Homo sapiens: one gene and its partners. The protein of the gene in region 2 purifies or fractionates together with the protein of the main gene of each other region. This does not show direct contact. Each region holds a gene or a part of one and is shown on either strand. Other genes may lie near its edges. The genes, in order: INTS1, ST8SIA1 and RPIA.

Region 1 (3,838 bases), on a different chromosome or scaffold from region 2:
CCTGGCTGACCTGGGAGCACTCATGGGGAACCGGGAGAGCACGGGTCCCATCTGTGTGCTGGAAAGACCCCGGTGCAGCGAGGACAGAGGGGTGGGCGGCTCTAACCCCAACCTGGCTGGGAGGGAGGAGAGTGCACTGCGGGCCAGCAAACAGGGCCCCATGCCAAGCTCCGCCCCGCATGCACTAGGACCCTCCCAGACCCTCCCCTGGGAGCTGGTGCCTGCAAAGGCAGGACGAGCAGCACCACCGGCTACTCGGACTCTTCTGGAATGGGACCCCAACTCAGCTCCCACAGAGGGACGCCCACAGTTGAGGCTCTCAGGGCCTTGTTGATCCTTTTAGTGCAGGAGAGAGAGACCAGTCAGCTGGGCCAGTCCCCCACGCAGCCTGACAAGGCCGGACTCACTCAACAGAGGCCGACCCCGTGGGCAGAGGACTTGAGGCCCGGCAGGGCCCAGGGCCGGCACTCGACAGGGAGACCATGACGTGGGGCGGGGGCGGCCAAGTGGGCAGCATCCCCCGACCCTCAACACCTGCGGGAACTGCTGGCCCAAGGGAGAGCCCAGCCTGGCCCTGGTCTCCACCACCCCGGACCCTGCTCAACTCCCTGCACTGTGGGGCTGGGAAGCCAAGGCCAGGGTCCTTGAGGCTCTCACTGGCCAGAGGGCGACATGGGACACCAGAGAGCACACAGACAGTTCAGGTCGTTTCATTCAAAACCAGCCCAGGCCATGCCCGGGGGGATCCGCCGCTCCGCGGCAGGGCTGTGGCCCAGAAGGTGAATGAGGGCTTGCTGGACGGCCCCTGATGCCAGCGGCCGGCCCGGAGCCACCCCAGGGCTCGGAGTATTGCTCCTGGGCCTGCCTGGCCTCAGGGCTCGGCGCCCTCACCTCCTCGGACAGACCAGCAACGCCCACGCTTCCTGGGCTTTGCCTCGAGGATCCCCGGGGACGGGACGGGCCGGGGCTTGGAGGGGGGTCGGCTGCCACAGGCTCACATCACGGCCTCCATATGCAGGATCCTCAGGGCCTCGGAGATCTGCGCGCTGGGGTCCATCTGGCCGTACATGCCCACCAGGAAGGCCCGGTGGAGCAGCACAGCCGCGTGCTCTGTGGGGGAAACGGGGCCCTGCACGTCACGCTGGCCACAACATCCTGGCCGCAGTGACCAGACCTCGGGACTCCCAAGAGCCAGCCCTCGGGGGACGCACCTCCGGCCTCCCCGAGGGCTGCCAGGGCCCTGGGCGGGGGGCCAGTCCTCACCTTGGCACAGGAGAGCGTACTCAGGCAGGTTCCGGAGGGCCGTCTGCACCACCTCAAAGTCCTGGCTGCCCAGGCAGTACATGAACGTGGGCAGGAAAGCGGCTGCAATGCTGAAAGACCCACACACTTCAGTGGGAACCTCCACCCTGTGCCCACGCCAGACCCCCACCCGACAGGGCGAGCTGAGCCGCCTGGAAGCCTGGTCTGGCCACCAGGCGGGTCAAGCGGTGACCTGGGTTAGCAGGGCCCAGCGGTGGCGGCGGGACAGAGGCCGGCGGTGGCCTCACCTGGGGCTGTTCTGCATGGAGCGCAGGGCCAGGCTGAAGGCGAGGTTGCGGCAACACTCCTCGGCCGAGCTCATCAGCCGCTGCAGGTTGGTCTGACCGGGGGAAAGGTGGGAGGTGTGTGACCAAGGGGTCCAGCCCCCATCAAGGCCCCTTCACCTCTTGGTCTCGTGATGGTTGGCGGCAACGGCAGGGACCCTAGGCCCCTATCCAGAAGGCAGGACGCACGTGCCACTGGCCGGTCCCAGCCCGGGGCTGAAGGCAGGCCTGCTCTGGCGGCGGCTTGACTGTGAACACCTGGGCTGGGGCCCCCACCCGAAGCCCAGCCTCAGAGGACTCCCTGGGGCTCAGCGCGGGCACGCCATGTTGGGGTGGTGGCCCTGCTGGGGTTCCCCAAGGGAGTGGCTCCTCCCAGCTCTCCCTCAGCCCCATCCAGCTCACCGAGAAGAAGCTCAGGATCTCGGGTCTCCGCCGGGACATCTCGTCTATGTCACTCAGAACCTCCAGCAGATCTGACACAGAGAGAGGGCCAGACCAGAACTGAAGGGCCCAGGCAGACCTCTGCCCACCCCACCCCAGCCACCCAGAGGGGGCAAGGCCCCGAGCACCACAGGACAGAAAGCACTGGAAAGCATGAGCCCAGTGACGCCCCAGGCAGTCACCTGCCCCCAAGCTCCACAAATACCCGGCCCTGCCCCTACTAGTGGCCTCCAAGGAGAGGGGTTGACCCCTCACGGCAGCCCCATATCCAGGGTGCTCTTAGCACCAAGTGTCCCCACGGCCCGACTCCATCCGGGCCGCTCAGCCTTGGCTGTCCTCTGACAGCGGCCACCGGTACTGCCCACCCGCTGGTCTTGCCCACCCGCCTGACCTCTTCCTGCTGTACCCCCACCACCTTAGGGGGCTCCCCTGCTTTTTGCTGTGCCTGAAGCAGAGCAGCCACCTCCAGCTCCCCTGGGCCCCTGAGTTTCTAAGGCCCTCTCTGGGGGTGCTCCCCACTGTGAGGAACAGCCCACCCACCCACAGCCCAGCGTGGGCCAGGCTCACGCCAAAGTCAGTGCCCAAATGGCTACTGGCTGCTGCCCGCAGCCCCATGGGACCCAGGGCGCTGACCTGGCGTGGGTGAAGCAGGGCCTGACTCACCCTCCACCGTTTGGCCCCGGGAAAGCCGTTTCATGTAGGGGGCCATCTCGGCCGCGGTCAGAGGGGTGAACAGGGAGACGCTGACCAGGGGCAAGGAGCCGGCTGAGCTCTCCTCTGGAAGACAGTGGCAGTGCTGCAGGAGGGCGGGAGCGGCAGGACGTGCCACACTGAGGCACCAGGACCTGCCCTCCCGAGAGCACGGCGGCCACTGCCCAGGCTCCCAAGGTGCCTGCACACAGCAGCGCTCCACAAATGGGGTGGAGCCAGGAGCCGGGAGCTGCCTTTGGATCCGGCGCATGCACCTCTGCGAGTCTCTCCCTGCTGGGTTTCTCGCAATGTGGGCCAGGACCCACTGGGCACAAGACGGGATGGCCCCTTGGGACCCGGGCCTGGCGCTCTTCCGGCGGCACAGGAGAGACGTGCTGCGGTGCCGTGTCACCTCAGGCAGGGAAAAACCAAGGACAAGCCTTGCCCAGTAGGACCAGGGGAGGCTTCCTGGGGAGGGACACCTCGGACAAGCACTGGTGGATGGTGGATGTGCCAGGGACGGGGGGGTGGGGAGGGCCATTTGCCGGGGCGGGGCGATGTGCCGGGGGGCAGGTGTGCTGATGCTCTGTCAGGCACCAGTCAGTGCTTCGTCCCCTTGAGGTGGGTCAGGGGCCAGCCAGCAAGGTCCCAGGCTCACACAGCCCCCATCGGGACGCCTCGGACGGCCCAGGGCTGGCTGTGCGCTGGGAAAACCAGGCCCTGTAGGACTGTTCCGCAGCTGCTTCCAGCAGCCCCTGGCAGCCCCACTCACCCTCGCCCTCTTCGTCCAGGCCTCGGTCGGTCCTGTCGTCCCTGCTGGGCAGGCTGAGCCCTGCAAGGAGGGATTTCAGCATCACCAGGTCACTGTTGTCGAAGGACAGGTCGCTGGGGAGAGAAGATGCTTTCACCTGGGAGGAAGACGCTGGCAGGAGGAAGGCTGGGTCAGGGGTCAAACTAGGGTGGCATGGGAGCGTGTGGACACAGGCATGCAGGAGAGGCCAGGACGCTCAGAGGGAGGGCCGGGCGGGGAAGCCACATGTGCGTGGAACGGGACAGAGAGCCAGAGAGCTGCAGGGGTGGGTTCAGACGGCTTCGGCACAGGGTGGGGCGGCCTCTGCGCC
Region 2 (3,133 bases):
ATCTCAGACCTGGATTAGACCTGGATTAGACCAAAATGAAATTTTGATTGTTCCACCTTGTCTTCACTTAAAGATAGATATACATGCTCACAGCATTCAAAATATGACTACAATTTAATGAAAATATTTTCTTATGGTAGATTACAACTCACTAGATACACCATACATATGCCTTTTGGACATAATTGGTTAGATAGGAGTGTGTGTGTGTGTGTGTGTGTGTGTGTGTGTGTGTGTGTGTGTGTAGCATGAAGTTAGGCATCTCTATCCTTAACTGTGCTATGTGTTCCTAAGTAAGGACCTCGCTAGAATCATCCTGTAGAGTGCTCTGGAATACTCTATTATTAAGATCTTCAATTCTAAGCTCCCATTATCTTTCTTTGTTTATCTGAAATTAAGACCTTCAGAATTAGGCCTGGTACTTTTCCAGATTTGATCAGTTACATTTTGATATAACTGACTCTTAAAATTCAGCTTAGAAGACATTCAATAAGAAAATCTTTAATCACTTTTGGTGATGCACCTGCCAAGAGGGGGCATCACTTTGTACCATCAGACTAATTAAAAAAATTGTTGTGTAGTCATAAAAATTAGGCTGATCCATAGGGGCAAAAGGAAGGGTGAAGAGACTAAAAACTAGTACCCTGATAGAATTTTAGTTTTTATTAGCCTCGATTTGAGAACTGCATTGATTCCAAAGATCATGAAGGTAGGTGAAGGATTAAGTCATTCCATAATTAAGAAAAGTAATGTTTATATGAAAGATTTTTATATGGACAATGACTCACAGACACATATGCTTTGTATAGAGGATTTTGCCAAAAGTTTATACAAAATTGCACATCTAAACTGCATAATTCTCATACAAGAAGTTAAGGAAGTGCTCACTGGATTTTGCTTCTGTATAGTTCACTTTTATCTGTCTTCACAAGGGTAGGAAGTAAATGATCTCAAATGGCACATGTTCAGACAATACTGTGTTTGGCTTTGTGATGTCTCATGTCTTTCTCTTGGCTAAAAAAAATTGTTTAGGCTATATATAACTTGTACCTGAAGCAATCTGGACAACATGGCTTAAAATGGAAAATAACTGAAAAAATCCTGGGATTTTAAATTTGCCAAAAATACCCTTGGATTAGTCAAAGGCTTTACAAGAGTGTTATAGATGATCCAAAATGGAAACAATATTGATAACATTTCTTTTCGTCAGCAGCTACATATTCCAGTTTTATAACTTTATTATATACATTTTTTGATTATTAATAGAAAGTCAGCCATCCAGAGTTTTAACTTCTGTGGTTGAAATATTGACTTTGTGAAATTTTTCACTGACAAATACTTGTTAGGAGGGACCTAAGGGGGAGGGGAATGTTACCAGTCCACTGAAAACTTTAGGAAATGTTCATTGTGTTGTGTAAATACTTTCCCACCAGCACCAGGTAATATATTCTCTATGTTTGTAGAATTCCAAAGATCAAAAGCTGTAAGGACGTTTATGTGAACTTGACGCAAACTTGTGGAGGAATAAGGACTGAGAGTAATGTTGTGCTTTTTCTTTATCTTCCCGTCGTATAGGTCGACTCTCAGGTTATATGACTTTTATTGGGCACACGTCAGGGGTGGAAGTGGTAGAAGTGGGTTAACAATTTCAAGGCCTGGCAACCTAGGTCAAAACCTCTAATAAAGTCAGCAGTAAACATAACTAGCAACTTCATTCCACTATGTGCTAGGAGGAGGGTGAGGCAAGTTGAAAGGAGATGACCCTATCCCCACACTCTCAGGATGTAAAAGGGCAGAGTGCTCTCTACCCTTAACCTTGGCTTTTTAGCACCGTCAGTCTCTGTCCTCTCCCAGGAGAGCTGCCTTGGCTCCAGAGTTGAGCTAGTAGCATTGTGACTAGAGAGGTAGTGTGGAAATTCGCTGAGGACCTCAAAATTTTACACTGCCTTAAACTGTTTTGTTTTTGCTTAAACTCGTGCTGTCTAAATGTGGGTGTTTTGTGGCAGAGTCTGATCACCCCGACCTAGTTATAGCCCTGCCAGTGATTCTAAAGTGGAACTTTTCCCCCTCATTCATATGGATAGTCTGAGTCCTTGAAGCTAGGGAGATATCAAATATTCTACCAGTTCCTACATAGCTTCTTTAAAAGTCCTAGAGACTAACTCACAGGAAGTCTGAAGCCCAGAGCGTCTGTTTATAAACTCCTAAATATGAGGCCACAATATTTAGGTTGAGCACTAGAAAATTTCTATTTTGCAAGTGGAAGGAGACTTGAATCTATAATTGCTGTAGCTTTTTTTCCCTTCTATCATAAGAAAATGGATACCATCTGCTTTACCCTCAGCCCAGACTTGTCTTTTGAATTTTTTACATACATCTTAGGGGTGAGAGATTGAAACAAGTGCATGAATGAAAAGCTTATTGAAACATAACACAGCCCCTGCTCACCATTTCAGTAAGGGAAAATACATGTTTCTGTTTCCCTCTAATTTGTTTTCTCTGGTGCCAACATTTCTGATTTCTTCTGTCTCTAATACATAAGGAATAAATACCATATTTTAAATTGACTTACATGCCTGCGAGCATTTGCCAGATAATCAAAGCCTATGACTCTAACTTTTTAAAGCACAGAAGAGGAATTATATTTTATGGTCACTCCTCTGTGTTTCTATTGATCTCTATATTGTGCTAAAATTCTTTCAGGTAATTTTTTTCTTGTTGAAGCTGTGGGATATAATCAATGATGCCAAGCTGTCTGAGAATTTTATAGAATAATATCCAAATATATTGATCCTGCCTCTTTCTGCTTCTATGTAATTAAACTTTCTTTTGATGTTTATTTTTAAAATGTATGCTTCACACAACACCAATAAACATCTAAGAGATGTGATATAATCCAAGGCAAAGAAAAGTAAGAATCAGTTAATGTCTATTTTATCTGCACAGCATTACGAACAGAAAATTGTAATAAAAAAAGGTTTAACCAAACTGAAAAAAAGAGAGACAAAATCTTGGTTTTAATTTGAAAAGATGATTGGGAGTGATCTCAGAAGAGAGTTCAGCAGGAAGCAAGGAAGAGGCTGTTGACCTTGAGTGCAGCCTCAAGAATGGAACCTTTTTGAAATATTTTAAA
Region 3 (3,500 bases), on a different chromosome or scaffold from region 2:
AGACGGGAACCACAGGAACAGCTCCATGTGGGCAAATGGACACTGCTCGGACTGGCTGGGGTGATAGGACAGAGTGAGTGTACTGCGTTGGTGCATAGTGGGGAGAGGGAAAGCAAAGCTGGATAGGAAAAGTGGGGTGGTTTTATGGCACCTGGAAAACCAGGCAGGTTGAGACTTGATGGTGATCTGGTAGCCCATGTTTCTGTCATACACATGGGCCTCACAGGGGTTAGTAAGAACTATGGGAAGGACTTGGGGATTTCTGTGGGCAGAGCCAGGGGCACAGGCTGATCATGTGTTCAGCAGCTGTGAAGAGAGTGGTTTGGGCTGAAGGTGGGCCTGGAGCCCAGACAGAAAAGGTTGCCACTTTCCATACCCCTGAGAATTGCCAGAGTGCAGCCTGGCTCTGGGGTTAATGCAGGCCTGGGGAGAGCAGTGCCTGCTGTAACTTCAGACAAAGGCTGGAATCTGTAAAAGGCTGGAAGCAAGCATGACCCATATGAAACTGTATTTTTTATACCTGTGCCATGCCAGCCATGCCAAGCAACTTAGTAACTGCACCATGAATAGAATTTGTACCCTGCATACTACTTGCTGTCTTTAAAAATATACTCGGGGTTCCTACAATGTCCATGCAGAGTACCATGAGTGATGAGAAATGTGTAACTTTCTTGATTTTGATTTTTAAAAGCTAGATGAACCCATTTGCCCCTCAACTGCTTTTGGGGCTTGTGGTGGAGCTTCCTAATAGAGGGAGCGGGCAAGCCCAGACAAGTGGGGTCTTAGTGGCAATGCCCCAGTAATTTCCAGTTCGGGAACTCATCAGCTTTCTTGTGTATCTCTTCATTTGATCCTCATGTCCACTTAAAATTGCCTGTGAGGTTGCTCACAGTTAGTACAGAGACTTCTGAATCAGTTTTTTTTTTTTGCATTTTTCCCACCCCCAGTGGAATTTAGTAGCACAGATATTACTGTATTGGCCCTTTGGTGGGACAAAACTCATTGTAATGTCTAAGATTTTTTATTCCCCCACCAAAAACTAATTTTTGCCTCTTGGGGGAGGTGATAGCACCCACACTGAGAACACGTGCTCTAAATAACGCCAGCTTGTCCACAGAGAAGCCCATCAATGAGAAAAGGGAACATAGTCTTGTGGGTAAGAACTGCATCCCGGTTAGAGTCCCAAGTCCTGTGCTGTTTCCCTTTGATCCTAGTGGAGCAGCTTAACCTCTTGTAGCTCAATTTCTTGATTTGCTAAATGGGAGTACTAGAATTAGCTAACAGGGCTGCTGAGTATCTGATGAGCTATCGCATGCTCAGGCAATTAGCAGAGGCTCCCCTCGAGTGGTTTTTGTATCTTTACCTTTCCCCCAATACAGATCGACCTTGCCATCGATGGTGCTGATGAAGTAGATGCTGATCTCAATCTCATCAAGGGTGGCGGGTGAGTGTTGTGGGGGCTTCTGTGCTAAAGAGTATCTGCCAGTTAATCCTTAGCAAAGCAAGATGGATACAGAATAAACAAATTGCCACTGTGACATATGCAAGTTTGTCTTTCTCCTAGGATATTGATAGCATATGGCCTTAGACCCAACTCAGCATTTCTGGTCATTAGCAGCAATTTACTGACAAGGAACCTGGGCCTCTTTAGTGAGATCATTCATCGTAATGGATTCTCTGTGGATTTGTGTTCTTTTGTTGATTCAGACTTTAAAAACTTAAGGCCAAATCAAAATAATACTGGGCTAGATTGTTAGGTCTGTGGGCACCAGTGTGTGACTTTTGCTTTAAAGCTGTGCTTACTTCTGTGAGCAGTTAGGGATATTATTTGTTCCTTTGGAAAACATTAATTGGGTATTTCTTAAGTGCTGATTTGGGGAGTGGTGGGAATGGTGAGTTGAAAAAGGTGAAATCCTGTTCTGCTGGTTCTTATAATCAAGCAGACTATTGAGTGATGCAGCATTTGTTTAAAATCACACTTTACTGTTTATTAGATTTTCTTACGTGTTACTTAATCCTGTCAACTGCAGATGTGAGATAGTTTAGCTGCTAAACCCTAGAGGTAGACCTGGACCCAAATCTGCTGATTCAGTGCTCTGGGCTCTCTCCACTTCATCACCCTCATTGGCAAGTAGTCGACTGGGCGGGTTGTTCAAAGCGTGCCCTCCTCAGCTTCTAGACCCTCCCATTCATGCCATGTCCAGATGACATCTCCCTGAACACAATGCTCCCTCTCAGACACATTTGGATGGAATTATGCCTGGCCTGAATGGGAACCTTGTCTGCTTTCTAGGTTTCTCCCAGACAGGGGTAATGTTTCTAGAGTCCATTTACTAGGAGCAGCATGATGGGACTGGGGATGTCCCTTTAAAAATTAAAAGTTAAGTTTCTCTTTAAGTGCCAGGATTGAGTGGATTTGGGATTCCTGTATTTAACCTTAGTTCCCAAACTGAGATTTTTGTCTTACTCCTGTGTTCCTTTGCTTCTTTCCTGCAGAGGCTGCCTGACCCAGGAGAAGATTGTGGCTGGCTATGCTAGTCGCTTCATCGTGATCGCTGATTTCAGGTACAGTTTCTGGTGTCTGAGCTGCCAACTGAGGAGGTAGATTGGATCCCCAAGCCGCATCCCCATTTTTGTGAAAGAGGAAATGGAGAGCTGCAGGGACTGTCTGACTTTCTGAGACTGATGGCTAGGACTTAGTACAGTGTCTAGGAGACCTTATGTTCTGCTTGTAGGCTGAAGGTAGATGTTGCTAATCACAGCACTGTTATCCGCAGCCAGGATCTCTAGCATCGTTTCATGTGTTCAGTGGAACGGGGAAACAGCTTGTCACCCTGTTAGCAGAGCATGCTCTCATGTGTCATGTCACTCACTGGATCCTCACAGGGAGCCTCAGAGGAGGCAGGGTGTGCCCTGCCCACGGGCAGTGACTCAGCATACCCTGCTTCTTCTCGGGTCAGGGTTTGCCGCAGGTGACTGGTGTCATTGATAGTCTTTGACCAGGCTCTCAGATGCTCCTTCAAGGAATGTAGTCAAAAGCACTTGTGCTGAGCATGTTAATTTCAAATATGTGTATGTGTATATTTACTTGTGAAATATAGCCACAGGACGAGCATAAATATTAAACACCTACATACCCACAAGCCAGCAATATCAGATTTTAACATTTTTGTCATATTTATTTCAAATAGCTCTTTTCCTATATAGTGAAACAGCTAATTCATTTGTAGCCCCATGTATATTGCCCTTGATCACTTTCCTTGCCTTCCCACCATCTCATTAACCCTGTTCCTGAATTTGGTGTTTGCCTGTACTGTTGAGCTTATTTACTTTTATTGTACTTTCTGACTCCTTCTTTCCAGGAAAGATTCGAAGAATCTCGGGGATCAGTGGCACAAGGGAATCCCCATCGAGGTCATCCCAATGGCCTATGTCCCAGTGAGCCGAGCTGTGAGCCAGAAGTTTGGGGGCGTGGTTGAACTTCGAATGGCTGTCAACAA

The links.
Region 1: the proteins of ST8SIA1 (region 2) and INTS1 purify together in Homo sapiens (affinity purification with mass spectrometry, with the first as the bait; one large-scale study listed by BioGRID). This does not show direct contact.
Region 3: the proteins of ST8SIA1 (region 2) and RPIA purify together in Homo sapiens (affinity purification with mass spectrometry; 2 studies listed by BioGRID and IntAct, with this or other methods). This does not show direct contact.

The regions. Positions count from the first base shown.
Region 1 is NC_000007.14:1,469,583-1,473,420, forward strand, and holds the end of INTS1 (integrator complex subunit 1), read right to left. Parts: intron 3,603-3,838; coding exon 3,490-3,602; intron 2,805-3,489; coding exon 2,691-2,804; coding exon of another isoform or gene 2,661-2,690; intron 2,060-2,660; coding exon 1,989-2,059; intron 1,643-1,988; coding exon 1,551-1,642; intron 1,374-1,550; coding exon 1,264-1,373; intron 1,111-1,263; coding exon 995-1,110; 3' UTR 695-994; downstream 1-694. UniProt on the Homo sapiens protein: Component of the integrator complex, a multiprotein complex that terminates RNA polymerase II (Pol II) transcription in the promoter-proximal region of genes.
Region 2 is NC_000012.12:22,195,635-22,198,767, reverse strand, and holds part of ST8SIA1 (alpha-N-acetylneuraminide alpha-2,8-sialyltransferase), read left to right. Parts: 3' UTR 1-3,133. UniProt on the Homo sapiens protein: Catalyzes the addition of sialic acid in alpha 2,8-linkage to the sialic acid moiety of the ganglioside GM3 to form ganglioside GD3; gangliosides are a subfamily of complex glycosphingolipds that contain one or more residues of sialic acid.
Region 3 is NC_000002.12:88,733,173-88,736,672, forward strand, and holds part of RPIA (ribose-5-phosphate isomerase), read left to right. Parts: intron 1-1,379; coding exon 1,380-1,444; intron 1,445-2,030; coding exon of another isoform or gene 2,031-2,046; exon of another isoform or gene 2,047-2,127; intron 2,128-2,496; coding exon 2,497-2,565; intron 2,566-3,362; coding exon 3,363-3,500. UniProt on the Homo sapiens protein: Catalyzes the reversible conversion of ribose-5-phosphate to ribulose 5-phosphate and participates in the first step of the non-oxidative branch of the pentose phosphate pathway.